Homo sapiens: one gene and its partners. The protein of the gene in region 3 interacts with the protein of the main gene of each other region in a pairwise test. Each region holds a gene or a part of one and is shown on either strand. Other genes may lie near its edges.

Evidence for each region.
Region 1: the proteins of CRB1 (region 3) and EPB41L5 interact in binary tests that used the Homo sapiens proteins (3 or more experiments, as listed by UniProt).
Region 2: the proteins of CRB1 (region 3) and EPB41L4B interact in a two-hybrid assay, tested with the Homo sapiens proteins (one study listed by IntAct).
Region 4: the proteins of CRB1 (region 3) and MSN interact in a two-hybrid assay, tested with the Homo sapiens proteins (one study listed by IntAct).

The regions. Positions count from the first base shown.
Region 1 is NC_000002.12:120,008,331-120,016,093, forward strand, and holds the start of EPB41L5 (band 4.1-like protein 5), read left to right. Parts: upstream 1-4,746; 5' UTR 4,747-4,880; exon of another isoform or gene 4,881-5,351; intron 5,352-7,763. UniProt on the Homo sapiens protein: Plays a role in the formation and organization of tight junctions during the establishment of polarity in epithelial cells.
Region 2 is NC_000009.12:109,171,455-109,178,066, forward strand, and holds the end of EPB41L4B (band 4.1-like protein 4B), read right to left. Parts: intron 5,243-6,612; coding exon 5,097-5,242; intron 3,170-5,096; coding exon 3,100-3,169; 3' UTR 520-3,099; downstream 1-519. UniProt on the Homo sapiens protein: Up-regulates the activity of the Rho guanine nucleotide exchange factor ARHGEF18. Involved in the regulation of the circumferential actomyosin belt in epithelial cells.
Region 3 is NC_000001.11:197,432,246-197,439,271, reverse strand, and holds part of CRB1 (protein crumbs homolog 1 isoform 1 precursor), read right to left. Parts: intron 4,567-7,026; coding exon 3,660-4,566; intron 726-3,659; coding exon 597-725; intron 1-596. UniProt on the Homo sapiens protein: Plays a role in photoreceptor morphogenesis in the retina. May maintain cell polarization and adhesion.
Region 4 is NC_000023.11:65,733,643-65,740,668, reverse strand, and holds part of MSN (moesin), read right to left. Parts: intron 5,403-7,026; coding exon 5,239-5,402; intron 3,875-5,238; coding exon 3,744-3,874; intron 3,492-3,743; coding exon 3,331-3,491; intron 2,145-3,330; coding exon 2,052-2,144; intron 1,700-2,051; coding exon 1,475-1,699; intron 941-1,474; coding exon 776-940; 3' UTR 1-775. UniProt on the Homo sapiens protein: Ezrin-radixin-moesin (ERM) family protein that connects the actin cytoskeleton to the plasma membrane and thereby regulates the structure and function of specific domains of the cell cortex.

The DNA of each region.
Region 1 (7,763 bases), on a different chromosome or scaffold from region 3:
AACTAAAGACCTCTTCCCCCACCATCAAATTACAGTATATGAGTTACACAAAAACTGGATATACCCCTATCTGTGTGGAACCAGAGAGCAAACCAGGACCTAGGATAGAAGTGAAAATCTCACGTGAGGGTATTTGTTCAATATATTAGTTCAGTAAAAGAAAATCTTTCCATGGGCCAAGACAATGCCACCAGGAAGTGGGTTTTGGTAGGCACCTTCTTTTTTTTTTTTTTTGAGAGGAGTCTCACTCTGTTGCCAGGCTGGAGTGCAGTGGCGCGATCTCGGCTCACTGCACCTCCACCTCTGGTGTTCAATCGATTCTCCTACCTCAGCCTACCAAGTAGCTGGGATTACAGGCGCCCACTACCACGCCCAGCTAATTTTTGTATTTTTTTAGTAGAGACGGGGTTTCACCATGTTGGCCAGGCTGGTCTCAATCTCCTGACCTCGTGATCCACCCACCTCGGCCTCCCAAAGTGCTGGGATTACAGGCGTGAGCCGCCGTGCCAGGCTGGTAGGCACCTTCTATAGCTACCCACAGTTATTTGTCTCAGCAACATTCTCTCTTTGAGGCTAATAGAATTTGGATTTGTTCAGAAAGTTAAGGAGAGCCCTTGGTCTCCAGCTCCCAAGGGTGAATCCTGACTGGTCTAAGCCAGTCATGGTATTCTCTTTCCCTATGGCCTTTAATTGGTCTGAGTTAGGGCAGGTAGTGTAGTTCTGGCCGGAGACAGGGGGTGCTGGTACTTTCTTCTCTGAATTAAAAGACAAGGCTTCAGGTAAAGGTCTTTTTCCCCTTCCCTTTTATTCCTGAAACTCAAGAAAGCTGGAGATAAGCATCCGTCCTGTGGCCAGTATGCTAGAAGCATGAAAACCAAGGTCAACATGCTAAGGGTGGCAAAGCAGAAATGGTAAAGGGGTTTAGGATCCTTACAGCATTGTTGAGGAGCAGAACCAGTACTAATAGCTGCCTACCTCTAGATTACTTATGTGAGAAAAATAAACTCCTTATTTTTCAAATAACAGTTAAAATTTCCCATTACTTCCAGCCAAATGCATTTTTCCTTGATACAGCTATATTTAAGGAGAGGGCTTTCTCTGTCTCTGGCAGAAGTCAATTTTCTGGTGAATTTATCACGAAACGTGTGTTACAGAGGGTCCCTATGTCTAGAAGAGAGGATCTGGGGAGACAATGATTTGTTATTAGGAATAATTTCACATAATTAGAACATGAACAACTTTCTATGACTTGGGCCCTTAAGTTTCATCCTCCTTTCCTCAAGTCTTCATATTTCCTTTAGCCTATAACCATCTTTCTCAACAGATTTCTCTAACCTCATCCACAGCCTCCTTCAGTTCCACCTTTTTTTTTTCTGGAGATGGAGTCTTGGTCTGTCACTCAGCCTGGAGTGCAGTGGCGCCATCTCAGCTCATTGCAACCTCCGCCTCCTGGGTTCAAGTGATTCTCCTGCTTCAGCCTCCCGAGTAGCTGGGACTACAGGCACACACTGGCACGCCTGGCTAATTTTTGTATTTTTAGAAGAGATAGGGTTTCACCTTATTGGTCAGGCTGGTCTCGAACTCCCGACCTCAGGTGATCTACCCGCCTCGGCCTCCCAAAGTGCTGGGATTACAGGCATGAGCCACCGTGCCCAGCCCCAGTTCCATCTTTGATAGGAGATAGAAAAAAAGATTGAGCAGGATGGATGAAGAGGACACTGTTTTTCAAAACTGGTATGCTTTTCAACAATTTAGGAGAATAAGATATGTTTATAAGTATTGACAGAATTCACTTCCATTTCTGATCTGTAATCAGATAAACCAGAACTTTTCAAATGAGTAAACATCAGGTAAACATGGAAAGAGACAGTCTGGACAGGCTGAGGGGATGGCACTGAAGACCCTGCAGTTTTCCAACTGGCTAATCAGACCCCTGGGAAGAAGGAATGCTTTTCGGGGTACCTGGCCCAGGTGGGTTTGTTTGTTGTTTTTTGTTTTGTTTTGTTTTTAGACAGAGTTTCACTCGCATTGCCCAGGCTGGAGTGCAGTGCAGAGAAAGCAGCTCACTGAAACCTCCGCCTCCTGAATTCACGCGATTCTCCTGCCTCAGCCTCCTGAGTAGCTGGGACGGTTTTCACCATGTTGCTCAGGCCAATCTCGAATTCCTGAGCTAGAACTCTTGAGCCTTGGCCTTCCAAAATGCTGGGATTACAGGTGTCCAGGTGGTATTTTTTTAAATACTCTTTTTTTTTTTTTCAGACAGAGTCTCTGTCGTCCAGGCTGGAGTGCAATGGTGCAATCTCAGCTCACTGCAACCTCCACCTCCTGAGTTCAAAAGATTCTCCTGCCTCAGCCTCCCTAGTAGCTGGGATTACAAGCATGTGCCATCACACCCAGTTAATTTTTGTATTTTTAGTAGAGACGGGGTTTTACCATGTTGGTCAGGCTGGTCTCGAACTCCTGACCTCAAGTGATCCTCCTGCCTCGGCCTCCCAAAGTGCTGGGATTACAGGCATGAGCCACCACATTCGGTCTAAAGGACTTTATTATGAAAAATTTTAGATAGAATAGTTTAACGTCCCCATCACCCAGCCTCAGTTTATGGCCCATTCTTGTTTCATCTATACCATTGCTGCTTCCCCCTGCCATATCATTTCGTTTTTTTGTTGAGATAAAGATGCAAGATGACCAGCAACAATTCCTCCCATCCCTGAACACCCATGCTGCTCCTCTCATGAAGAGTGATGAAAATATTCCACAATTAGATTGTGGTTTGTGGTTCTACAACTCTGTGAAAATACCCAAAGCCATGGAAGTGTACACTTTAAGTGGGTGCATTATATCTCAATAAAGATGTTTTTAAAAGGTGGAGAAGGAAAATTTCTCTATTTTAATAATATTTAAAGAAAAAAAAAGAGGTAGAGTCTCTTTCATCTCCTTGAAACTGGGCGGCCTCTGTGATTTGCTTAAACCATTAACAGGCAGCAGAAGGGACGCTCCGTGACTGCTGGGCATAGCCCTTCATAGGCCTCAGAGCTTCTGTTTTCACTGTTTTGCCACACCAGCGGATCTGCAAGAGAGTAGCCCAGGCAGAACTCAGCTGTTCTTTGCAGCCACCCCAGCGGAGATGCCACACAGACCAGTGAAACCACCTTGGCAGCTCCAGCACCTGTTGAGCTGCCCAGCCAACACCACATGGGGCAGAGATGAGCTGCCAAGCCTGTCTACTACGTTTTGGGGTGGTGGAGGAGTGGGCAGTGCCAAATCCCGAGAAGAAGCTCAATGAGTATTTGTCTCTTTTCATTTCAGCAAGCAGAGGGTCCTCAAGGTAACACCTTCCAGTGGCTCCCCCACCTCTCTCAGAGCTCTAGCCAGGGCCCACAAGGCCCTACATCTTACCCCTTTCCTCTCTGACTGTCACCTCCTCTTCCTCTTGCTTCCTCACTTCTAGCCACACTGGACTTCCTTGAAAAGACAGACCTGTCCCCTTGCAGGGCCTTTTGCCCTTGCTGTTCCCTTCGGTTCTCCCCAGATGGCCACAGGGTTCCTCCCACACCTCCTCTAGGTCTTCATTCAAATGCTACCTTTTTTTTTTTTTTTGAGACTGAGTCTGGCTTTGTCGCCAGGCTGGAGTGCAGTGGCGTGATCTGGGCTCACTGCAACTTCCGCCTCCCGGGTTCGAGCGATTCCCCTGCCTCAGCCTCCTGAGTAGCTGGGACTACAGTCGGACGCCACCAGGCTCAGCTAATTTTTGTATTTTTAGTGGAGACGGAGTTTCACAGTGTTGGCCAGGCTGGTCTCGATCTCCTGACCTCGTGATCCGCCCGCCTCGGCCTCCCAAAGTGTTGGGATTACAGGAGTGAGCCACCGCGCCCAGCCAAATGCCACCTTCTTATTGTGACCTGCTATGTAAAATCGCAAACCCTCACTGCCTGTGGTTATTCCCTACTTGTACTTTTCTTTTTAGCATTTACCAATGTCTGACAGTATTTAATTTCACTAATTTATCTCGTTTATTTTATGTCTCGTTTATATTCCTGCTATAACGTAAACTCCGGGAAGGATTTTTGTCTGTCTTGGTTGTCTGTCGTATCTCGTGTCTAGAACACAGAACTCACAGTAAGTAGGCACTTCAATCAATTACCTGTAGAATGAACGGACTGAATGTCACCTTGTTAGAGTACCCTCCTGACCACACTCTGCTAAGCAGTAATCTTTTATTTCTCTTTCCCAGTTTTATTTTTCCTCATTTACACTTAATCACCTTGTGACACCTATTTGTTTACTGTTTCCCCAGTAGAGTGAAAGTCACTTTAACAGCAGAGATTTAAATGTATTTTAATCCCTACAAAGGAGAAAAAGGGAGGAAATACGTGACAGGCTCTCAATAAGTATTTGCGAAGGATTTAATCTCTTGAACGAATGGATGAATGAATCTAGCAGCCAGCTCCACCAGCCTCCTTCGTGATAGGACTAACTGGGGTCTGTCTGCGGACGGGCGCCTCCTCCGCGGGCGGAGGGCCGCAGCGGGAACTGGGTTTCGGCAGCGCCCCTTTAAACCAGCCGCGGACGCCCGGCTGCTGGCGCTAGTTCCAGCCCGGCCGGGCCCGGCCTCGCCGGTTTCTCTCCAGTCGCCGCGCCGGCCAATTTCCGGGGCGGTGTCATCGCCCGTTTAAGAGCGGAGCGCTCCGCCCTGGGGGCGGAGCTGGGAGGGAGCTTTAAGGGGTGGACGGGCGGGAGGTCGGGGTCCTCCGGGGATTAGAGCCGGTGGGCTCGTTGTGGGCGCCATTTCTCGGCGTCTACCGAGGAGCCGCCCCTTTCTCAGCCTTGCTCGGCTCTTCCCCGCTCTGGTCGCCGGGGCTGCGCCGTCCCCAGCTCAGGTAAGCGCGAGGCCCGGCGGCGGCGCCGCAGTACAGTCCGCTGCGCTCCTAGCCGAGTGGACCCTTCCTCGCCCGCGCCTGCGGTAGCGGCCTTGTCCCCGGGGAGGCGGGCGGGGGCCGCACCCAGACCCTAGGGCGGCCGGCCCCTCTCTCGTCGGGCCGGCAGGGCATTAATCCCGCCGGAGGGAGGGGCGGCGGCGGCCAATGAGGCAGGGCCGCCGAGTTTCGGTCGATACCGCGCGACGGGCCGGGGCGGAGGGCCCGGGGCAGCCGGGTTAATGTTTGCCGAGCGGACGCGCTCCCCGAGCCGCGGGTACCCCTCGCTGGTCCGCTGGGCTGCCGTCCAGCGGGAGAGACAAAAGTCGCAAGGGAAGGGGAAAAACGAACTGAGTTTGTGTCACTGTCTTGGTGGACTTTTCGAGCTAACCTGTATTTGAGAAAAACTTCAGTCTCTTGGGAAAGGAGAGGCAGGTGTGTTCCCATGAAAGACGAGGTCTGAAGGTCCCGCCCCGCCCCCACCCGGGACGGTTGTCGTGCTAATGATGGGTTCTTTGGTGTGTAAATGTTAATTGTGTCTGTGGTTACTCGAATTCTACCTAAGAGCGAGACCCAACTCTTAAAACGTTTGGCAATATTTTAGACTAATATTAAAAGTTTTTAAAGAATTACGGGGAAAATTCCCATAACCGTGTACATTTGTAATGTAACCCACAACTGCATTAACTCAGTTTCTAACATAACCCGTTGCTGAGCTCTAGTTAACCTTGTTGGATTATTTGTGCATGTAATATGCTGTGCAGGCTTTAGAAAATAGGTTAACATTATTCGAAAACGATATGCGTAACTGCTGTTGAATTACTCGCTTGCATTTTCTTTATTGGGAATACTGGGACAAAATATAGTGTTACCTTAAATGGCATTTGCTGTATGTTATATTGCTTTATCAAAAAGCAATTAACCAACCATATTGTGGCCACCAGTCATGTAAGAGTATACATATTTCATGACTAACTTTTGGGTTTTGGGTACTTTTTTTAACCAACTTCTGATAGGATTGCTTAAATTTGCATTTTATGATTCTAAAGGAAATCCTTCTAGTTAGGAACTAGAGTAGAAACTACTGTTTTTTGGAAGCCACATAAACCTACCATCCAAAAATTCCACTGTGTCATTCTAGTGTGTCAGGCGAGATGCGGGTTAAGCCAGCTGTTGGGCCAAAGTAGTGAACAAGCCAGACGAAGTCTTTGTCCTTGTGTGTGAGTGGGGGAAGTAGTCAGTAAAAAAGATAATAATTAACAGATATTTAATTACAATTTCTTTGTTATAAAGAAAAGGCTAAGAGTACTGAAAGAGATGTCGAATTTAGACTCACAAGTCTGAGATTGCTTTTCTGAGAATAAGACATTTCAACTATAAGTCTGAAGTTAGTCCAGTGAAATGGGAGCGGGTGGAAGAGAGGTCAACTGGAAAAAGAGCAATCCAGAAAGGTGGAACAGCTAATGAAAAATGGTCCAGAATTAAAAAGACTCTCCGGCCGAGCAGCAAGAGTACAAGAGCAGAGCAAACAGAGGGGAGTAGGCTGACAGATGGGTCAGGCAAGTAGGAGGAGCTGCATCTAGGACCAGGGCCATTAAAGATTTTAGAACAGGGATCAGATTTGTGGTTGCCAAAAATCCAGTGGCTGCAACATGAAGAGCGCAATTGGAAGAGTGCAGGTGGGAGGGGAAAAGTGAGTATGAGAAAACTTTTTTCACAATCATTAAAAAAAAAAAAAACCCACAACTTTTAGTGATCCATTCATATTATTTTTTTTTTCCATTAAAAAAAATTAGGCCAGGCGCAGTGGCTCACGCCTGTAATCCCAGCACTTTGGGAGGCCGAGGCGGGCGGATCACGAGGTCAGGAGATGGAGACTATCCTGGCTAACACGGTGAAACCCCGCCTCTACTAAAAAAAATAACAAAAAATTAGCCGGTCGTAGCGGCGGGCACCTGTAGTCCCAGCTACTTGGGAGGCTGAGGCAGAAGAATGGCGTAAACCCGGGAGGCAGATCTTGCAGTGAGCCCAGATCGCGCCACTGCACTTCAGCCTGGGCAACAGAGCGAGACTCAAAAAAAAAAAAAAAATTAGGTGGGGTCTTGCTGTGTTGCCCAGGCAGGTCTTGAACTCCTGGCTTCCAACAGTTCCGCCTTAGCCTCCCAAAGTGCTGGGATTACAGACATGAGCCACTGTACCCAGCCATATATTCTTGTTGTGACTTCTGACATGCCCCTCTTCAGAGAGAATCTCAACAGTTTACGTGTGTGTCTGTTTAGCGTGTCTGTGTGTGTGCATGTATCCCATCTCCGTGTAGGATGAAACTCTCTTCAGTGTTCTGTGATTTGATTTTTCACTTAGAAATTTTGTCATATCTAAGTCAACTATTTATTTAAAACAACTGTATTATGGCTGGGCTTGGTGCCTCATGCGTGTAATCCCAGCACTTTGGGAGGCTGAGGTGGGAGGAATCCGATTCCCTGAGGCCAGGAGTTTGAGACAAACCTGGCTAAGTAGCAAGACCCTGTCTCTACAAAAAATCATTGAAAAAACGTTAGCCCGGTGGGATGGTATGTGCCCGTAGCCCTAGGTGGGAGAATCCCTTGAGCATGGTAGATGAAGGCCGCAGTGAGCCCTGGGTGCTAGAGTGAGACTGTCTCTAAAAAAAAAAAAAAAAAAACATAAAAATAAAACAACTGTATTGTATGCTGTTGTGTGTACCATAACTTGTTTAACTGTTTGCACATTGATGAACACATTTAAAATTTTCTTAAATCAGTTATGCTCCGAAAAATCCTGTTCCTACAACTTAAAGCACATGTGTGATTTTTTTTCTTTAGGTTATCC
Region 2 (6,612 bases), on a different chromosome or scaffold from region 3:
TTTAAAATGGTTATAGTGATGAATTTTATTTGAGTTTTTAAAACTGTAATTTTTGAGATGGTGAAAGATAAATATGATACCAGAATATTCCTCTGCTATATTCCTGGGGAATATAAAATTCTGGGTGCATGCAAGTGGGATCTTCTGAATGCCCTAGGATCTCAAACTCTTCAAACATAGAATTTCCTATGCAGTTTACAATCCATAAAGCTGTGGGTTGCAGGTTTCCCAGACCCCTTGCAATAACCTTCCATGCCTACTGGGAATCTGCATCCTACAGTTTGGAGCCCTAGCTCTGGAATGACTATGTCAGTAAGCTGATTGTTTCCCCCGGACATAAGGTGTGTGTTGTGTGCCCATATAGTGCTGTTGTTTGGGTTTAAAATATATAAAAAATGTGAAACAATTGCGCCAATTCATTTTCATCCCTATGAATCCATCCAGCACAATTTCATCTTCTCAGTCACAATGCCAAGCACCCATCATTCACTTAAATAGGCAAATAACCAGGACAACTGCTGAAACCATGGAATCCTCTTATTTTACTGGTTAGAGGTGAGCTGCCAAAGGTACTGGGTTTCAAATACAGTAACAGCCAACTTGTTTGTGGTCAGACTTCCAGTGACGTCAACCTTCAGAAACTTCAACATCTGTGAACTCTGGGGGAAGCGGGGAAGAAGCAGGAAGCCCAGAGCCTCCTGGAAACACTGGCCAAAAAGCCCATGCATCCCTTCTTGGAAGCCAAGCAGATCTGACACATAGGAAATACTGGCTTTCCTGGCTTCCCCAAGAAACCTTCAGCTTTGCCCTGGAGGTTTCCATCAGCGAGCAGGAGGTGAAGAGCAGAAGCCTCAGAAAGCAGGTTAGAAGAGGAAGAGGGTGCTGGGTTGGCAAGAAGTGACAGCCCCATATTGTACGGGAACATATTTTGTATCATGTGCACAAGATAAAGAACAGCTAAAGCTGTTTTAAAAGTATAGCCGGGGGACATAGGGGTAAAAGGACCCAAACGCTACAATTGCCCCGGATAGCTCCACTGACAGAGCAGAGAGCAGTAAAAAACCATCAGTGAGAACAGCATAATATCCTATAAAAGGCCAAGCCAAGCCCTACACATATTGATAGCTCTTAATGATATCACTGCACCGTACCAAGGTATAAAAGGGGCTGATGTTTATAATCATGACCATGACTCATCAAGAAAAGGTTAAATACTCTCCAGTATACTCTGTTTACTAAGGCAGGGAAGTGCGTAATACATTTTAGAAAGATTTCCCTCAAAAAAAAATATATTAAAATTTTAAAGATTCAGCACTTAAAGGGTTAATCCTCGGTTATCTGAATATTCACATACATTCCTCATTTTACAACAATACTAGTAAATGAGGCATTACCTTTTTTTGTAGTCATTAGTATCAAATTATTGGCACCATTCAGTTTTAAGGAGAGGGGCAGGAGAGCAAACTATACAATATAACATAAAAATACAGTTCTGATACAAATATATGAGATCAGTTCCTCTTAACAAGTGGTCATAAGAAATGAATGAACATTTTACACACAAGGAAATACAACTAGTAAATCATCACATGGAAAAGTGCTCAGCCTTGCTAGCAATTAATGAAATAAAACAACTCTTCAAGAACAACTATACATACCTATTAAACTAGCAAAAATAAATAAAAATGGCAAAACCCAATACTGGCAGAGCTATTGGTAAACAGAAATGCTTATACATTGCTGGTGGCATCATAAATTGTCGAGGGGATTCAAGCATTCAGAGGGGGTGGGGAGGCTAAACTAGATGACCTTTAAGGTCCTTCCAACCCAAAGATTGGATCTTTCTAGAAAGCAATCTGGCAATATAAAACAAGAGCTATAAAATACTTCATGCTCTTTGACCTTGTAATCCCTCTTTGGAGATATTCCTAAGGGAATAATCCAAAAGAAGGAGCAGTTTTTTTTTTTTACAGACATTCATAGCAGCACTATTTATAAGAGTGAAAAATTAGATATAACTCAAATATCTAATAATGGGGTGAAGTGAGGTTACCCATGTTACATGGATATAAAGACATTTAAATTGGTGAGAGTAGAATCTGTGTTGACAAGAGGAGACAAGTGTTAGGCCGAGAAGTAAAACAAAGGAGAATGTACACAACGATCATAGCTATGTAAAAATATGTGTGTATTCATTGAGAAAGCTAGGGAACTAATTTAGAGGGATATTTTGTGGTTAGGGGGTTGCTTTATTCCTGCAAAGTTGTTCAAGTGCATTAATAAAAATTTAAAAACACATTTCTTGAAACTATATAAAAAGAGCAAAATTTCTTCTGGTCAAGATTCTATCAATACGACATGAATCGATCAACTTTAGAAATAATTTTCTGAATCTTCTTGATATTGAATCATCTTAACCTTGTAAGGATTTTTAGACAATGTAAGCTATCATTTCCTACTTTGGGTTCAATGATAAATTCTGTTTATTCCAAATAATATCATATCCAAGGAGTTCACAAGTTAAATTATATTTCAGATTAAGCTGAAGTACCTTCAGTCATAGTGATATGTAACTTTCTTTTTTTAGTTCTTCTACTCACATCTGAATACAAATGAATGTTAAAGACTTTATAAGATCTGTGTATTTATCAGTGTAAATGAAAAACCAGCAATAAAGAATTATTCTTTCATTAAAAATGACTCTTTAACAAACAGTCAAAGCTCGGTGCAAGTTTCAATCATACAAAATCAAATGGTTGAAATTGATAGTAAAAGATCCTACATCATATTAACCCCTGTGGTTATTAACAGATACACACAGGTACTTCTGAAAAGGAATCCCGTTTTCCCATCTTTCTTTTCCTAGACTTATCAAATCCTGTCTCAACTACATAGAGTAATAGAAAAACTCTAATGCTTAGGAGACATAAAATAACTTTTCCCATAAAAGTCAAGCCAGAAATTGGCTTCAACTAACCATGGAGACCTGGGCGAACAGAGCACACACTTGTATGCTGTGCTAGAGTGAGCACACAAAGCCCGAAGAAAGAAGACGGACAGAAGGCACCATGCCATCTTCCAGGTGACAAGGGGAGAATTTCACAGTTCGGTCATCAACAGTCTTTTCATCATCTTCTCTCTCTCCAGTTCCTGCCGGAGTGTCTCTGCACTAAAAAAAAGTATGTGACAAAATAGTGAGACAATCCCTCAAAAATTGCAGAAGCAGACAGCTTAAGTATCATCTCCCAGGTTCTTTCCTGATCTCAGTGTTGGACTTTCTTTTTTAGACTCCTTGAGGACTATCTACATTTGCTAGCATTTCAGTGATCTGAAATTGGCTACTTACTGGTTTCTCAGTCCCACCATGCTGAGAGTTCCTGGCTGACTATATGTCATTCATCTCTAAACCTCCAGAGCCTTGCGCAGTATCTGGTGCATGGCAGCCACTCAGTAAAGTGTTTTTTTTTTTTTTTTTTTTTTGAGATGGAGTCTCACTCTGTCACCCAGGCTGGAGTACAGTGGCGTGATCTTGGCTCACTGCAACCTCCACCTCCCAGGTTCAAGCGATTCTTCTGTCTCAGCCTCCAGCATAGCTGGGATTACAGGCACGTGCCACCATGCCAAGCTAATTTTTTGTATTTTAGTAGAGACGGGGTTTCACCGTGTTGCCCAGGCTGGTCTCGAACTCCTGAGCTCAGGCAATCCACTTGCCTCGACCTCCCAAAGTGCTAGGATTACAGGCATGAGCCACCAAGCCCGGCCCTCAGTAAAGACTTTTGAATGAAGATGTCCAGGGGTTAGATTTATTTAAATCATGCTTTAAATTGGTTTCATGTGCATTTTCTCCCAGGCTTTCATTTGATGAATATCTGAGGGAATGTTGTAACAAATAATTAATTATATTTTAATGAATCAAATTGAATGAAGTAAAATTGGCTGTTTTGAGAAGTTGCCTCTGACTTTTTGGACCTCAGGTCCAGTTGCATATCTATGTAACCTGTCTCCACTGTTTAAACACACACACACACACACACACACACACACACACACACACACACAGAGTAAATACACATCTTTTCATTGTTTTTAGTTAGAGATGGGGCCTTGCTATGTTGCCCAGGCTGGACTTGAACTCCTGAACTCCTGGCCTCAACTGATCCTCCCACCTCTGCCTCCTGAGTAGCTGGGATGACAGGCACGAGCCACCATGCCTGGCAAAATACACATCTTTAAAGGCACTAACCAAGTTTAATAATTTCATTCAGGGTAGAAAACAAAGTTTCTACTGTAGCCAACAAGGCCCTACGCAGTCTGGCCTTAACCCACAACTTCACAGGCCTCCTCTATTGTCATTCACTCTGCTCTGGCCACGCTGGCCCCTTAAACTTCCGTAACCATGTCAGGCACATGCTTCCTCAGGAGCCTTAGCACTGGCTGGTTGCTCTGCGCAGTACTCCTCCCAGGTATCTGCAGCTTTCTCTATAGCCCTTTTCAGGGCTCTGCTTAAATGCCACCTCATTGAGGCCATCCCAGGATACCTTATTGCCATTCACAATTTCATTTTCCTCCCTATCCCTTGTCAATATCACACACACGCACACACACACACACACACACACACACACACACACACACTCATTTGTTGTCTATCTCCTCTAACAGCCTACCCTTGTAAACATTTTTTTTTTTTTGAGGCAAAGTCTCACTCTGTTGCCCAGGCTGGAGTGCAGTGGTGCAATCTCAGCTCACTGAAACCTCCACCTACTGGGTTCAAGTGATTCTCCTGCCTCAGCCTCCCAAGTAGCTGGAATTACAGGTGTGCACCACCACGCCTGGCTAATTTTAGTAGAGATGGGGTTTCACCATGTTAGCCAGGCTGGTCTTGAACTCCTGACTTCAAGGGATCCTCCCTTGTGCTGGGATTACAGATGAGAGCCACCGCACCTGGCCCCTTTATAGACATTTCAATAAATACTTACAGAATAAATGAAAGAATGTAGGAAAGGCCTGTACGTGTCACAAACACAATGAACCTAGAGTCTCCCTGGTTTCCCTGTCACCAGAATTACCTGTCGGAACCTGCTGACCTGACCTACCTGGCTGCCAGAGAAACAGGTTTCCGGGTGGTGTAAATGGTCTGCACTGTGGAGACGGTCTCTGTCAAAGGCCTCAGGGTCGCTGCTGGGATCAGCGGGGAAGTCGGGCCAGGACAGCACTGTAATTTACTGTCTCTGAAGTCTGCCTGGAGAAGAAACAGGAAAGAGGAGATCAATCTCAATTTGGGTTCCATTTTCACACTGTCAGTTGCTCCCTAAGCCTTACTCTACAGTTCCTGTTCCTTTTCACTACCAGCTAAAATCGATTGTCATTTTAAGTGATTTTACTTTGTGCCAGACACCATGCTAAGTACTTGACACATATTAACTCTTGACAACCCTTTAAGGTAGCGATTATATTTCCTCACATCTTAGGCACCATCAGTTGTAAGATGCACCATTTTTGCATTTGCCAATCAGAAAGAAACATGTAGCCATTTAAACTTTGTCATGCCCACTATCAAACTTTGTCATGCCCAGTAGTAAACATTCTGATATCGGGAAATGTTAAAAGGTGAAAACAAATGTATATTTTAAAACTGATTTTATGGGGGAAAGTGAGGCTCAGAGAGGTTAAGTAATCTGCCCAAGGTCACACAGTTAGTAAGTGTTAAGAACAGTACTGAGAACCAGGGCTAGCTGACACCATAACTGGGGTTTTTCATTACTGTAGCAGTGGTTCCCAAAGTATGGGCCCCAGACTAGCAGCATCAGCATTATCTTAAAACTTGGTAAAAATGCAAATTCTCAGGCCTCACCCAAGACCACTGGGACCCAAGAATGCCTGGGGATGAAGTCCAACAATACGTGTTTCAACAAGACCTCCAGGTGATTCTTCTGGAGGAATTACAATAAAGCTTCAGAACTACTGGTCTAGAGTATACTGTCTCATTTGGAGAGGATAATATATTCTTGTCATTTTCATTATATAGCAAACTATTCTGTTTACTTGTATATAGAAAGCTTAGAAGATATATAAAAGTAGATCAGGCCGGGCACGGTGGCTCACACCTGTAATCCCAACACTTTGGGAGGTCGAGGTGGGTGGATCACCTGAGGTCAGGAGCTCAAGACCAGCCTGGCCAACATGGCAAAACCCCATCTCTACTAAAAATACAAAAAATCAGCCGGGCACGCTGGCGCACGCCTGTAATCCCAGCTACTCAGGAGGCTGAGGCAGGAGAATCGCTTGAACCTGGGGGCGGAGTTTGCAATGAGCCGAGGTTGCGCCACTGCACTCCAGCCTGGGCACAGAGCGAGACTCTGTCTCAAAAAAAAAAAAAAGTAGATCAATGAAGAAATTCCATAATTCCTTACTGTTGCCATCAGTATATTTCCTCACAGGTTCTCTCTCTCTTCCTCTCTTTCTCTCTCTCTTTCTTTCTTTCGACAGAGTCTCACTCTGTTGCCCAGGCTGGAGTGCAGTTGGCACAATGAGAGCTCGCTGCAGCCTCAACCTCCTGGGCTCAGGTGATCCTTCTGCCTAAGATTCTCAAGTAGCTGTCACTACAGGTGC
Region 3 (7,026 bases):
GATAAAAGCTATTCAGTATGCATTATTTCTACCCCTGAACTTACCCCTAGCCACTCAAATACATATTCTAATTTTCCTGTATTTTCAGCAGGTCACAGATTGCCTGAAGCCATTGACCAACTCCATTTTAAGAATTCCTGTATGAGGTGAAGAACAGTTGAAGAGTTTCTCTGGGAAAAGTAGACTCATATGGATAAGGTATATATACTTTTGGGTTGTAGGCAATTCTATGAGGCAATCTTTTAGTTGTAATTTATTTTACCTCGACAGCAACCATATTTGCATCATGTATTAGAGTTAGCAACAAAAAAGAGACATGAATTCAGAAGTACTTATAAGAAAGAAAAATAGCACATTATACATTTTTTAAAAATCATTTTTCCCTATTTGAAGTTTTGTCTAATAAAATGTTCTCCCCTTTGACCTAAACTGTAGTTTTTCTTCTTTTTTATTGTTTCATTCTGTCTGAACCTCTATTTCAGCATAGATTTTCCTATGGGAACTGAGATAAAAAATTAGAGGAGAAAATGAACTTTGAGTAATCCCATCATTCTTTAGCTCAGAATTCTCTTCCAGAAGGCTCTAATGTGACTCACCATTCTCCAGTAAAACCTGGCCGGCACATACATTTTAATTCAGTCTGGAACTCTGTGCAGTTGCCTCCATTGTAGCAAGTGAGATTTGTCTTCTCATTCCCACAGACTGTTGAGGGTAATCTGCTCTGTCTAGAGAGATAAAAGCAAGAGCCACAGCTGTTCATCTTGTTCATCTCATTCAAGAAAAGTTTTCTGATAAATTCATGTATGTAGTCAATGCCAAGCTAATTAAGTACTCAGGCTGGAGGAGCTACAAATGCTTAATTGTGCTGCATTATGCAAGAATCACTTTCTCCAGTAAAAAGCTCCTGCTGGAGGGTTCTGTGACAAGCATGGCTATACATCTTCCATTTCTACACAGTTTTCGTTTGTGAGATAAGATCTATGCCATGGGGTGGCAATAAATTTTGGGTTGGAAAAGAACTTGCTATAACTAGATTTGCTGCTGCTTTGCTAATAAATCAATAAAGGCCATAGGAAAATTGCATCTCTATAAAGGCCAGGAAGCAAGGACAGCACTCTACTACCCAAGCACTCATGTGATTTCTCTATTGGCTTTCAGAGCTGAACTCCAGTTGCCCTGCCAAGACTTGCTGCTCCCTATGTAATAATTCATAGCTTCGAAGAATGCAAGCCAAATGCTGTCCAGGAGCTTTGTATATAGCACACGATGGTAACTGCATGTGAATTCAGAGTGTGGCTCTCTGATATGGCAACAAAGCTTTACATGTTAAAGAATCCTCATAAAAGGCGGAACAAGTATTAGAAGCTAAGCGGAACTTCACTGTAAGACAAAATCTAGTAATGTGAAGGGACTGATATTTAAAGAGTTTAATAGTGTTGCTTAGGCCCTTTGACCCACTGTGTATGTGCATGGTATCAGATAACTAATAAATATTCAGGAAGTGTAAAATGAATTGAATTTTGTTCTGTTGTGTGTGCTGCAGCTAATGTGGATAGACTAGCTTATATGATGCTAAGTGTGTCTCTTCCCGCAAGAGCTAATCAATTCTACTTTAAAAAGAAGGATATCATAAAGACTTTTCAAAAGAGCCAAAAATGTCAACCAGCTTTGAAAGAGGTCAATTAGCAATGCAAATATGAAGCTTTGTATACATCTTGGTTTTAATAAACAATTCCTGAATCTCATTAGAAGGTATTTTTGAGGGCTTTCATCTTTCAGAACTTGACTTTAATGAATTAGGCAGAAAAAAATTCTGGAGAAGTAGTTACTAGGGCCTATGTGTTTATTTTACTTATCAAAATTCACAGTGAAATATACTAAATTTGATCCTGAATTCTTCTTGCTTTTAAACAGGCAGGTTACCTGTTGGGAACACTTAGCACCTACAACAGTGCCTTGCTTTCACAGGCTCAGAACAGTAACTGTTAAGGAGAGATGTACAACTTCTTATAGGTATGCCTACATGTTATGTTTGCTAGGAGATTCATGCAATTAAGGTACCACCTCTGAATTAGTGTAATGTCTACAGGCTGCCAACCCATTCCAGGTGTTCTTGCCGAAGTTCTGGAATGTATTACTTGTTAATAATAACCCTCTCACCTCCCCATAATGACTCAATTATTTAGTAAATTTAAAGCGGTGTAAGTTGTAAAAACAATAATAACTTCTTACATGGAAATACTGAAGCAATGTGACTTAGAAGAAAAATAGTCTTTCTTATCTCTGTTTATATAGCTTGAAATGGAGGTAGTTACAAGAACTAAAATACTGCTTTTGTAGTTGTAGAAAAATGTGAAATACTTTGAAATGGGCAAAAAAAATCACTGCATATTCTTTCAATGCACTGCTGGGTTTACATAAAGGACTATCCAGGATTATCCACTTTTGCAGTGGTCTGTGCCTTATTACAATTCTGTAAGTTGTAGAAAACAATATTAATATGAAAATCTTGTTCGTCAAAATGCAAATTAGTTTATCTGTAGTGAGCCATACAAATGATTATCACAGTATTGAAGATGACTTCAAATACTAGTTTTCTTGCCCTATGGGATATTAAACAGTTTTGTATTTATTAATAAATTCATTCACTCATTCTTGTTTGTATATATACGTATACATATTCTTTAGATTGTCCTTTGAATTAGTTTTTATATCTTACTAGTTTCCTCATTAATGACAGAATAATTAAAACATGTTTATTTTATATTTGTCTGAGAATTATAATTCCACTGTTTTGAAATTACAGTTGACCCTTGAACAACACATGTTTGAATGGTGTGGATTCACTTATATGTGGATGTTCTTTCACCTCTGCCACCACTGAGACAGCAAAACCAACCCCTTCTCTTCCTCTTCATCCTAATCAACATGAAGACAATCAAGATAAAGATCTTTGATGATCAATTTCCACTAATGAATAGTAAATTTATTTTTTCTTTCCTATGATTTTCTTAATAACATTTTATTTTCTCTAGCTTGCTTTATAGTAAGAAGACAGAATATGACATACAAAATATGTGTTAATTGACTATGTTATTGTTAAGGTTTGTGGTCAACCAGGCTGATAGTTGTTATGTTTTGGGAGAGTTAAAAGTTAAATGTGGATTTTCAACTGCACATCAGCACCTCTAACCCCTGCGTTGTTCAAGAGTCAGCTGTATACTTTAATGTACTGTTTTCGGGATTTTAGAGTATTTACCTGCCTGAAATAGCTCAAGGCATTATTTTAGCAATAGAAGTCATGCCTTCCCTAACAATACTACATTTCAGCTTTTGCATTTATTGTAAATGCATTTGTTTCCCGAGGCCTTGAAACTGTTAGACCCTGGGGCTACAGTTCATGAGACATATTTTCACACAGATGACTGAGAAAATATTTTGCTGAAAATCTGATTTAAACACTACCTTTCTGACCTGTAGAATATCCTGGTAAGTGAGATCCCATCTGAACATGACCAAATTGTGACAGAAGCTACCAGTGTCACCCTGTTCAGCACAGTATATATGTATACCTTGAGGAGAGAGCTTTCCAATTTGACAAGAACAGTGATGCAGAGTATAGCTTCAAAGACCAAGCTTCATATGGACTTTATGCTCACCTGCAAAATTTTCCTGTAAAATTTCCAAAACAGAGGCAAGAATAGCCATTAGTATGACTAATGCAGGTGGCTCCATTTGCACACTGGTGACTCTGGCAGTTGTCTATATCCACTTCACAGTTCACACCAGTGTATCCAGGCTCACATGTGCAGTGGTAGGCTGCAACTCTGTCAGAGCAGTTGCCATGGATACAGGGGTTTGAAAAGCATTCATCGATGTTGAGTTCACAGTGTTTCCCTGACCATCCCAAGGGACAGGAGCAATGATAAGAGCTATAGATGTCTTCACAGTTTCCTCCATGCAAACAGGGGTTGGAGTTGCAGACATTTAACTGCAAACAGCCAGTGACCACTGAATTGGTAGAGATTTTGAGAAATTGCTCTTCCTGAGGTTTATTAATGAAACCATGAACATTTTCAAAGTAAGAGAGATAAATGCCTCCGATTTCTATTGTACTTAGACACCCTTGCAGGCCCTTTATATTGTCAATAGCTCTGTCTCCCACATAAATATCTGTATTATCCTTCAAAAAGTTGAGGCTTCCAGTAGCAATTGTGCTGGTCACAAAAGGTGTTTCGTTGTCCACTTCCATTTGCCACCTGGAGGTCTGGGACAGTGGGTCTGTCATGGAAAGGGTCACTTCGTGCCATGTGCCATCATTCACTGACTGCAAACTTGTCAGACTTAGCATATAAAAGCTGTTGCCACTTTGCAATTGAAAGAATAATCTGGAATCTTGAATGCTAATATTAAGAAATTCAGGCTCTTTTTCTGCATGCAATATTATTACATTTGCATCCCTTGTTCTGAAACCAAATGTGATATTGGTGAGTTCTCTGGTAATATTCCCATTGCTTCTGAATAATATTTGACCGCTTTGTCCATTAAAAACAGCATTTGCAATACCTAATGAGAGAAGGTGATAATAATCAATAACTTTATTAAATCTATAGTTTGCTTAATTACCGTTATTAATAGTAATGATCATTGTGTTAATAACATTGCATATTGACTATTTGATACATGTTACATACTGTGCTAGTTGCTTTTATATTATTTCTAATATCAAACTTTTGAATACAGGTATTATTATTATCCCCATTTTATGGAAGAAGAAGTTGAGACTCACAGAATTTAAGTAATTTTGTTCATGGTCATGTAATTAATAAATAACAAAGCCAGAATATCAAACTGGGATGGTCTGATAGCAAAACCAAAACTATACATTTCTTTTCCAGTGAAATCCTAATGCATGCCAATTTTTATTTTGCATTTGCTCCCACAAATAAAGCATTGATAATTCATTTTACACATAAATAAATTGAGCAAAAAGAAATCACAAATCTAGCTATGGTGACCCAGAAAATTAACAGTGGAGTCTGGCTTCTGATTAAGCTGATGAGTAGGCAGTTAAAAGTAGCATTCCAAATGACTGATTTACTTACCTGGTAAAACTCCAATTATGTGACAAGCTGCAAATTCTGTATCTACACCCAAGTACTTTCATATACAACCATATCAATTGCTCTCATGCTATATGTGAGCAGAGCACTTTGGGCAATCCTATTGCATTTCTCTATTAAAAACTTTTTTCCCCATTCTATAAGATGATTAACAAACAACTTGTTCTGTCTCTTAAAATATCTAATTCTGTCTCAGCTTATGATCTCACCTAATATTTTCTTGAAAAAACAGAGCTACCTCAGATATCCATCAAATCTGTAAACCTAATATTATTTGGATCCACACTGCATTCTATCCTGCTATAATAGACGTATTGTCTGTATTCCCACCAAGGTCAACTCTACCAGTTATAAACTGGGTCCTACTGCTTTTCACCTTTTAAACATATTATTCCTCTATGCATTCTTTTTCTTTCTTGCATCATCATTTCCCCTTCCATTTTGTTGTTTCCCATCAATATACAAATATGTGTAATTGCTTTAATCTTAAAAAATAAAAATACACACGAAACAGTATCCTGACATCCCCCAATCCTGCTGCTTTTTTGTCTATTTTCTTTACCAGCAAAACTTACTAATTTTATATCCCCATGGTCTCACTCTATTATTCCTCATTTTTCTCTTTTATATATGCCACTCAAGCTTTTGTCCCAGTCACTTCACTAAAACCACTTTCATGGTTACAATGAATGACCTCCATGTTACTCAATGCAGTGGCCAATTATCTACTTTTATTGTATCACACTTTTCAGTAGCAAATGACCTGAAAACACTATTAATACATTATCAGGCACTACACCCAACCACCATCATCTTTCATTAAGACTAATTACTTCTTAGTGTCCCTGCTTCTACTGCTCTGCAGATCAATATAACAACCACTCCTTAGTCAAGCTCCATTAGTTATCATCTTTAAAAGAAATCCTAAATTCTAAACATAACCACAAGAGTGTACATGATCTGAGCCAGTTGTGGGTATAATCTCAGCTATCTGGGAGGCTGAGGAGGGTGGATAGCTTGAAGTCAGCAGTTTGAGACTATCCTGGGCAACATAATAAGACCCCGTCTCTCTTCAAAAAAAAAAAAAATTCATGACAAAATTTTGCCATGTTAAAAAAAAAAGCATCTACATGATCTGGCCCCTGATTAACTCTCCAATTCCAATTCATTCACAGGCCACAGCCACAATTTCTTGCCATTCATTGAAGATACACCAAGCTTGTTCCCAGCGCAGGCCTTTTATACTTGCTGTTACTTATACCAAGAATATTATTTCCCCAGATCTTCTTATACTTGGCTTTTCTTAGTGTTAATATCGCTCAAATGTCACCTCCTCTGAGAAGCTTTTCCCTGACTATCCAAGTTAAAAAAACCGCCTCCCTGCATTCACTGTCTATGCTTAATTTTCTTCATAGCTCCCATTACCACTTAAAATTACGTTTATTTGTTTACTTGTTCCTTCACTGTCTTTCTGCACTAGGACATAAGCTTTATGAAACCAAGGATCCTCTGTGTCTAGGTTATCACTAAATCCTTATGCCTAAGCCTGTGTGTCCCTGATGTATAGTAGGTGCTCAGTAAACATAATTAAATGAATACTCTATGAAAATAACTCCATCCTGTATCCTGAAAAGTGAGATAATGATTAGAAACCACAGCAGGAGAAAATTTCAGTGTATCATTCAAGTGTATTATTTGACTTAATTAAATAAATCAATTCCTTTGATCTTATTGTTTTTTACTATGTGTGTGTGTGTGTGTGTGTGTGTGTGTGTGTGTGTGTGTGTGTGTTTCAACCAGGTTTGGAGTTGGGAATTTAGGGAAAAAAAGAGCAACAAGTGTTTCATTACATGTTTTTAAGTAAATGTTAAAATAAAAAATCTCCAAAATTCTCCAACTCTGA
Region 4 (7,026 bases), on a different chromosome or scaffold from region 3:
TTAGACCGGCCTATACTCCTACAAGGAATTGGGGTAGGATCTTCTACTCAGCCTTGCCACAATAGAATGGCCAATGCCCTTCTAGTATGTTTGGTGAAGGTCTTGAAGGCACCATTTCCCCCATCCACCCTGGGGAGAAATTGAGTCCCTAAAGTCAACGACAAGGCTTATTGAGGCTGAGTTTGCAACAGATCCGATCTGGGAGGTAGAAACAAAAATGACTGAACATCTTTTTATCCCCCAATCGTTACAAAGCCTAAATAACTCTAAACGGGATGGGAGGGCAAATTTTAGGTCAGTTGACATCCTGGAGAAGATATCCTAGGTCCTGTCTCATTCCCTAGACCGCATAACACTCCAACCGTGTAAATCTCAGGACCCTGAAGAAGACAGTGGTAGGGGAGAGGAGGGGAGCTAGCTTCCAACCTACTCCACACTTGACTCCCATAGGACAACAGTAAGTGTAAGGGCATTTGCAAAATCAAGTGGAAAGTACCTCTAGGCTGGAGAAGTAGGATATTCTAGCCATACAGATTCAATGGAACAGAGAAGAGAAAGGAGGTTCCATTGGCACCATAGTGAGCCATTCATTTGCCCAGGGAAGTGGGTGGGGGCTAAGGGGCTAGGTTTGGTCCCATGGCTACATTAAATGCTTGGCATGACTCCAGGGCTGCTCTAGTTAGTGGCTCCAGCACAGTATGAGTTAGGTGAGTTAGGTGTAGGAGTGTGGGGACAAGGAAAAAGGGAGGAGGGGTCCCTAGAGGCTGGGTGCCCATTACATAGACTCAAATTCGTCAATGCGCTGCTTGGTGTTGCCCTGCCGGATCTGGCGCAGGGTCTTGTATTTGTCTCGGCCCAGTCGCATGTTCTCAGCATGGATCATGTCATTGGCAGTCTTCTTGGACTCATCTCTGGCATTGGCCAGCTCCGAAGTGAGGGCCTGTGAGGATGTATGGGAACACAGAGGTCAATGGCTTTCTCTCATTTTACCTCCTGTTATTTGACCAGACTTCCCTTCTCTTCTGTTTCCTTCTTTCTTCCTCACCCTTTCTCTCTATATATAAATATTGAGAGTCATTTCCAACTCTGTTAGAACTGCAGTGGGGCAAGAATATTAAAAAAAAATAAATAAACTTAGGGGACCAGTTGATAATGGGTATCCTTTAAGAGTAGAACAACATACAAAAGATTCAGGTGGGAATTTTGTCAGCTAGATATTTTCTTAATGTAAGAGGTGAATGGAGTGAGTGGGAGGTGGGGCAGAGAGAAAATCTCAAAAAGGGAAGAGATAGCCCAAGGTCTGATTAATAAGTGAGAGGTGCCTATCCTTAAAGCTGTCACTTAAGAACGGCTTGGGCTCCCATACAACACTGGGACAGGATCTTATACCTATCCCCCATGATGGTCTAGGGAATGCCATGGGCTACTAAATCAATGCATATAGTTTCCTTGCCCCTTGGCCCTACTTGTATACCTTCAGGTGCTTCTGCACACGCTCATTCTTCTCTGCCTCAGTGGTACGTTCCTCCTCACTGCGGTCCTTGGCCATAGCATCAGCCCGTAGGTCAGCACTAGCCTCTGCCCCATTCTCATCCTGCTCATCCTGCTCATTCTCAGCAGGCTCTGCCACATGAGGTGTACTCATGGCAGTCTTCAGCTCAGCACGGGTCTTCTCCAAGTCTTCCTGTACCATCTGGGCCTGTCCAGTGACAGAAGGAGAGAAAGACTGTCAGTGAGACCAGTTAAACTGTGGCATCCTGTATATGCCTAGAACGGTCTGGCAAGAGGCAGGCACCAGGTAGGACAAGGCACTTCATCTGCCTGATCCTTAGTTTCTTCATCCATAAAACAAGAGCAATTGTACCAACTTCCTAGAGGTATTAGAGAACTCCAGTAAGTATTTGACGAAACCATGAGTGCCTTCTCCCATGCTGCCTGCTGTGGGAAGTATGAAAGAGGGAGGGAGCCAAAACATAAGGAATCTAAGGAGCTGTTACCTATGCATATGGCACCCATTCCTTCAATGCTTTGCTTTAGGCCCTGTGTCTTACCTTCTGCTGCCACTCCACAGCCTCACTCTCCTTCTTCTGTCGGGCCATCTCCAGCTGGGAGATTCGAGCTGTCAGCTCTGCCATTTCCAAGGCCTACGGATAAATTGGAAGCCTGTGAGAGCTGGGCCTTCTGGTCCTCAGGACCCAGGTGTCTTCAACCCAAGTCCCCTGGGGGACTAGTAAGGGACCTACTGCTCCACTTGCTTGCTGCCTCAGAGACTCTTTTACCAGACTACTTCATTCCAGTCCCATCTTCCCTGACCACCACTTCCTTTTAAGTCAGAGCTCCCCCACCTAGACTGTAGGCCTCTTGAAGACAAACAATATGCCATCTCTGTCCCTTCCTCATTATCTCTCCCCCTGCCCCTCTTGGCAAGTATGCAGCTGGGGGCCTCAGTAAAGCTTTGGCCATCATTGGGTCACTTCCTGAAGTGGCAGATCCTTTCCTGATATCCTAGAATGCTCAGGATTCGACTAAGAGTCTTCCCAGGACAAGTACAGGAAAGACACTCAAGTGTCACAAAGCTATCTGAACAAGGAAAAAAGCTTATGCACACCTTGGGTAAATCTCCCATGACAGCTTCCTCATGAGAGACAGGTCTTGGTTCCCTCTATTCCCACCTCCAACAGTACAAAGGAAGAGTATATGTCAAGGAGTTTGGACCACAGGTTCTTAACTTCTGAGTCACAGAACCCTTGGAAACTGTGATGAAAGTATGGATGCCAAATGCCCCAAAAATGCATAGACACATAGTTTTGCATGTGATTTCAGGGAGCAAAGCTTTCAAACAGAGGCAGAAATGGGTGGGTTCTAATCCTTATTTAGCTACAATTGTGTGATCTTTGGTGAATCTCTTCCCTGAGCTCTAATTTCCTTATCTGGGATATTATCTCATATGAGGTTAATCCCATAGGGTTACTGGGAAGAAGAAATAAGTAAGGAAAAGGGAAATATTCCCAACACAGCAACATACAGCAGGAGCTCAAATATGAGTCCCTTTTGTTCTTTTCTCCTTCCCTTTCCTTTGCCAGGTCAATCAGCTCAGATACCCAAGAGTTAAGAAAGTGAACAGAAACTAAGGGTTAGGGAAGACTGCAAAAATTTCTGGGCCACACTAGTGACTTCTCAGCTTGCTTCTGAACTAGTTATTTGCTGGAGGCCCATGGAGTGGTAGCCTGCTCTAAAAAGCCAGCATGTAAGCAAAAGTAGCTATAAGTAAGTAGGCAGACAAGGAAGAAAGTTCAGTTCCCATAATCCCAGCCCACCCTACAGCTTTACCAGCTGTTCCTGAGTCTTTTTCTGGTCCCGGGAGGCCTGCAGCAAGGCCTCCTTGGCCTCTTCAGCTTCTTGACGCTCCTTGGCCAGCTTTTCAGCCTCGCTCTGGGCACGCTTCCGTTCCTGCTCAAGTTCCAGAGCCCTACGGGTCTGTTCTTCCAGTTCTGAGCAGAAAAGGAGGGGAGAAGGCAGTGAAGAGCACAGAGATAAAGACGACACAATAGCTTCGTTCCTGGAAATGATCCACCCCAAGACAAAGCTGGCAGAAAGTTCTGAGCTCTCTTCTTGCCCATTCTTCTTCTAGTCTGTAGCCACACCTGAACTACATTGTCTGAGTCTACAGCTCAGGCAGAAGGTTCTCCAGCTCAGAGTTAGGCCTGGAAAAATCCAATCTCCAAGGTGACTCCAAGCCTCACCTTGCTGAGCCTTCTTAGTCTGTTCCTCGATCTGCTTCAGCCTCTCCATCAGCTCCTCCTTCTCCCGTTCAATCTTCTCTTTCTCCTTCTCTGCCATTTCACGCTTCTTCTTCTCATTTTCCAGCATAGCACTAGGGAAGGAGATAAAATGGATAGAACAGGATAACAACGCTCCACAAAAGCCTGGGGAGGCCAGGCGCGGTGGCTCACACCTGTAATCCCAGCACTTTGGGAGGCCGAGGTGGGCAGATCACGAGGTCAGGAGATCGAGACCATCCTGGCTAACACAGTGAAACCCCGTCTCTACTAAAAATACAAAAAAAATTGGCTGGGCATAGTGGCATGCGCCTGTAGTCCTAGCTACTCAGGAGGCTGAGGCAGGAGAATTGCTTGAAGACAGGAGGCGGAGGTTGCAGTGAGCTGAGATTGCGCCACTGCACTCCAGCGTGGGCAAAAGAGCAAGACTCCATCTAAAAAAAAAAAAAAAAGCCTGGGGAATTCCAAGGCTTGCTGCCTCTGGGTCTCTCAACCCAACCTTCCCAACACACTTAGGGATTGTGAGTTTGGGCCACCCTCCCTTACCTCTATACCCTTGTCCTCATATCATAGCCCCACATAGGCCAGTGTACACGGGGCCCTGTCAATGTACCCCTGAGTCAGGAATCCTAGCTCTCCCACCAACCCACTGGGTGACCTTAGCTATGTCACTGCTTTGCTCTTGTTCCCCTATCTTGAAAATGGTCCAATAAGACCTGCCCTATCCACCTTGTTAGGGAGACAAGTTTTGGCTCTGTGCTGGGATGAAGTGCTTCAAGTCTAGTAATCTCTACGGCTAGTGCATCAGTCCTCAGGTCTAACACTGCCTGCCCTAAAGCCCAGCTCTAGGCTTCTTTTTCCCAGAGTCTGTTACAAATCTGGAATAAGTATTTGCTTTTGCTTTTTCTTGCCCTAGCACCTCTTCCAGGAACCTTCTTATCTCCCTTGGCTAGGTATTCTCCATCTGGGCCCTCAGAATACTTGGCTTACCCTTCTCCCCATCCCTCTTCTATGTTTTTGTCTCCATAGCACTTCTTAACCATCTTATGTACCACATAATTTGCTTATTTATTATGTTCGTCTCCTCCCCACTAGAATGCTAGCTTCACAAAAGCAGAGATTTTTGGTCTTTTCTTATTCATTGCTCAATAAATATTTATTAAGTGAATGAATGACATGGCCTTTGTACCTTGAGTTATGTATATATTGTTTTCCCTCTCTCTGCTACTAGACTGAGTAGACTGTGAGGTCCTACAGGGCAGTTTCCTGCTAGATCCAGCTCTGTAAAAACTGCCCCTCAAACTTGGTAGATTTTTTCTGAATAAATGTGAATATTGGTGTCTAACCTCTCATCTATGAAGTCCTAGGTTGGCCTCATGTCCTGACTTAGCATGCAGGGCACCTTTGAGAAGCTTCCTTGCCCCAGCCCTGGCCCCCCACATCAGTGTGCAGCACCTACCGCTCCATCTGCTTCTGGTGCTTCTCCTCCCGGGCCTGTGCCTTCATCTGCTGCACCTCAATGGTATCAGGCTTGCGACGGCGCATGTATAGTTCATGGTTCCCCATGCACAAGGCCAAGATCCGCTTGTTAATCCGCAGCCGGGGAGCATAGAAGACGAAGTCCTGGTGGGAAATCAGCAATCAGAAAGAATTTGGAGGGACAGGTGAAGGTGATCTTCTGCCTTCTGAAAAGCTAAATCCAAAAGCACTGGAAAGAATATTTAATCTGACCTCCTGCACTACAGATGGGAAGACTAATTATCAGAGTGGTAAAGTGACTTGCCCAGGGTTAGACAGTAGACAGACCCAAGACTAGAAACCCAGGTTTCTTGACTCTGAAACCCATGTTCTTCCCATAATTTCTTTCAATCTTTGCTTATGAAACCACAATTTCTTTCAATCTTTGCTTGTGAAAGCATCCTAAATTACTCTTAATCAAGTTGAAGGATTCAAACTTTCTCTGCTAATTAGGGAACATGCTAGGTCTCAGGTGACCTCTTTTGGAAGCCAAATGACCCCTGAATAATACCCTGGTGGGTGCAGTATGGGTGGCTGGACTGTTTCTACAATCTCCTAAAAGCAAATCCTAGACCCAGCCCCTTAAATCCTTTTTGGAACAAGGCAGGCTGTAAATACATACATGAATACATAAATCTCCTGATCACTGCTTGTCCTGGTTGTTGTTTTTAAAATGAGCCCTTGATCTCAGCTGGCTTTGTTACTTAACTTTTTCTGATAATAGTTGAGCACAGCAGCAATAAAAGAAAACACACAAGAAAATCCAGTGAGTTTGAGTTTGTTACTACAAATACCACTGGACCGAAGTCACCAGCTGATGGGCACCACCATCTCCTCTGCCACTGACCACACACTGCTACTGTCTCATATAGCTTGGGGTGCAGGTATAAATCCCAGCTCTACCATTTTTAGCTGTGTGATCTTGGGCAAATCACTCCATCTCTCTAACCTCAGTTTTGTCAGCCATAAAATTAGTATGCTACTTAGTACCTACCTGACCATGTTGCTGAGGGTTTAAGGAGACAACATGTGTAAAGTCCCTAGCAGGGGAAGTTCAGGCACCTCATGGCTGGAGAAGAATCACTGAGCCTTCATGAAAAGGGTCAGGCTCAGCATTGTCACTGGGCCTTGTTGGACATGCAGTATCCCAGAAAAGGGGACACTCAGCTCAGTTTCCTAACCTACCCACAATCACCAGCTGTCTGGTCTTGTCAGCTGCAGGCTACTGAGTGGGTAAGAAGCATGGCGAGTGTGTTAGAGAAATGAATGAACTTAAAGCACTTTTTTGGTCTTGGATTGCTCTGGAGAAAAGTCTGAGAGGGCAGCAGTAAAGTTCTACCAAGAAGTCTGTAGGATCATCTTCAGATTTGGACTTTGGCCACAGCCCTTTCTCCACAATAAAAAAAAAAGAAGTCAAGGGCTGGGCATGGTGGCTCACGCCTATAATCCCAGCACTTTGGGAGGCCAAGGCAGGCAAATCACCTGAGGTCAGGAGTTCAAGACCAGCCCGGCCAACATGTTGAAGCCCTGTCTCTACTAAAACTACAAAAATTAGCCAGGCATGGTGGCATGCGCCTGTAATCCCAGCTACTCGGGAGGCTGAGGTTGTAGTGAGCCAAGATTGCACCACTGCACTCCAGCCTGGGCAACAGAGCGAGACTCCATCAAAAAAAAGAAAGAGAGAGAGAGAGAGAGGAAGGAAGGAAGGAATCAAATATGTGAACAGTGT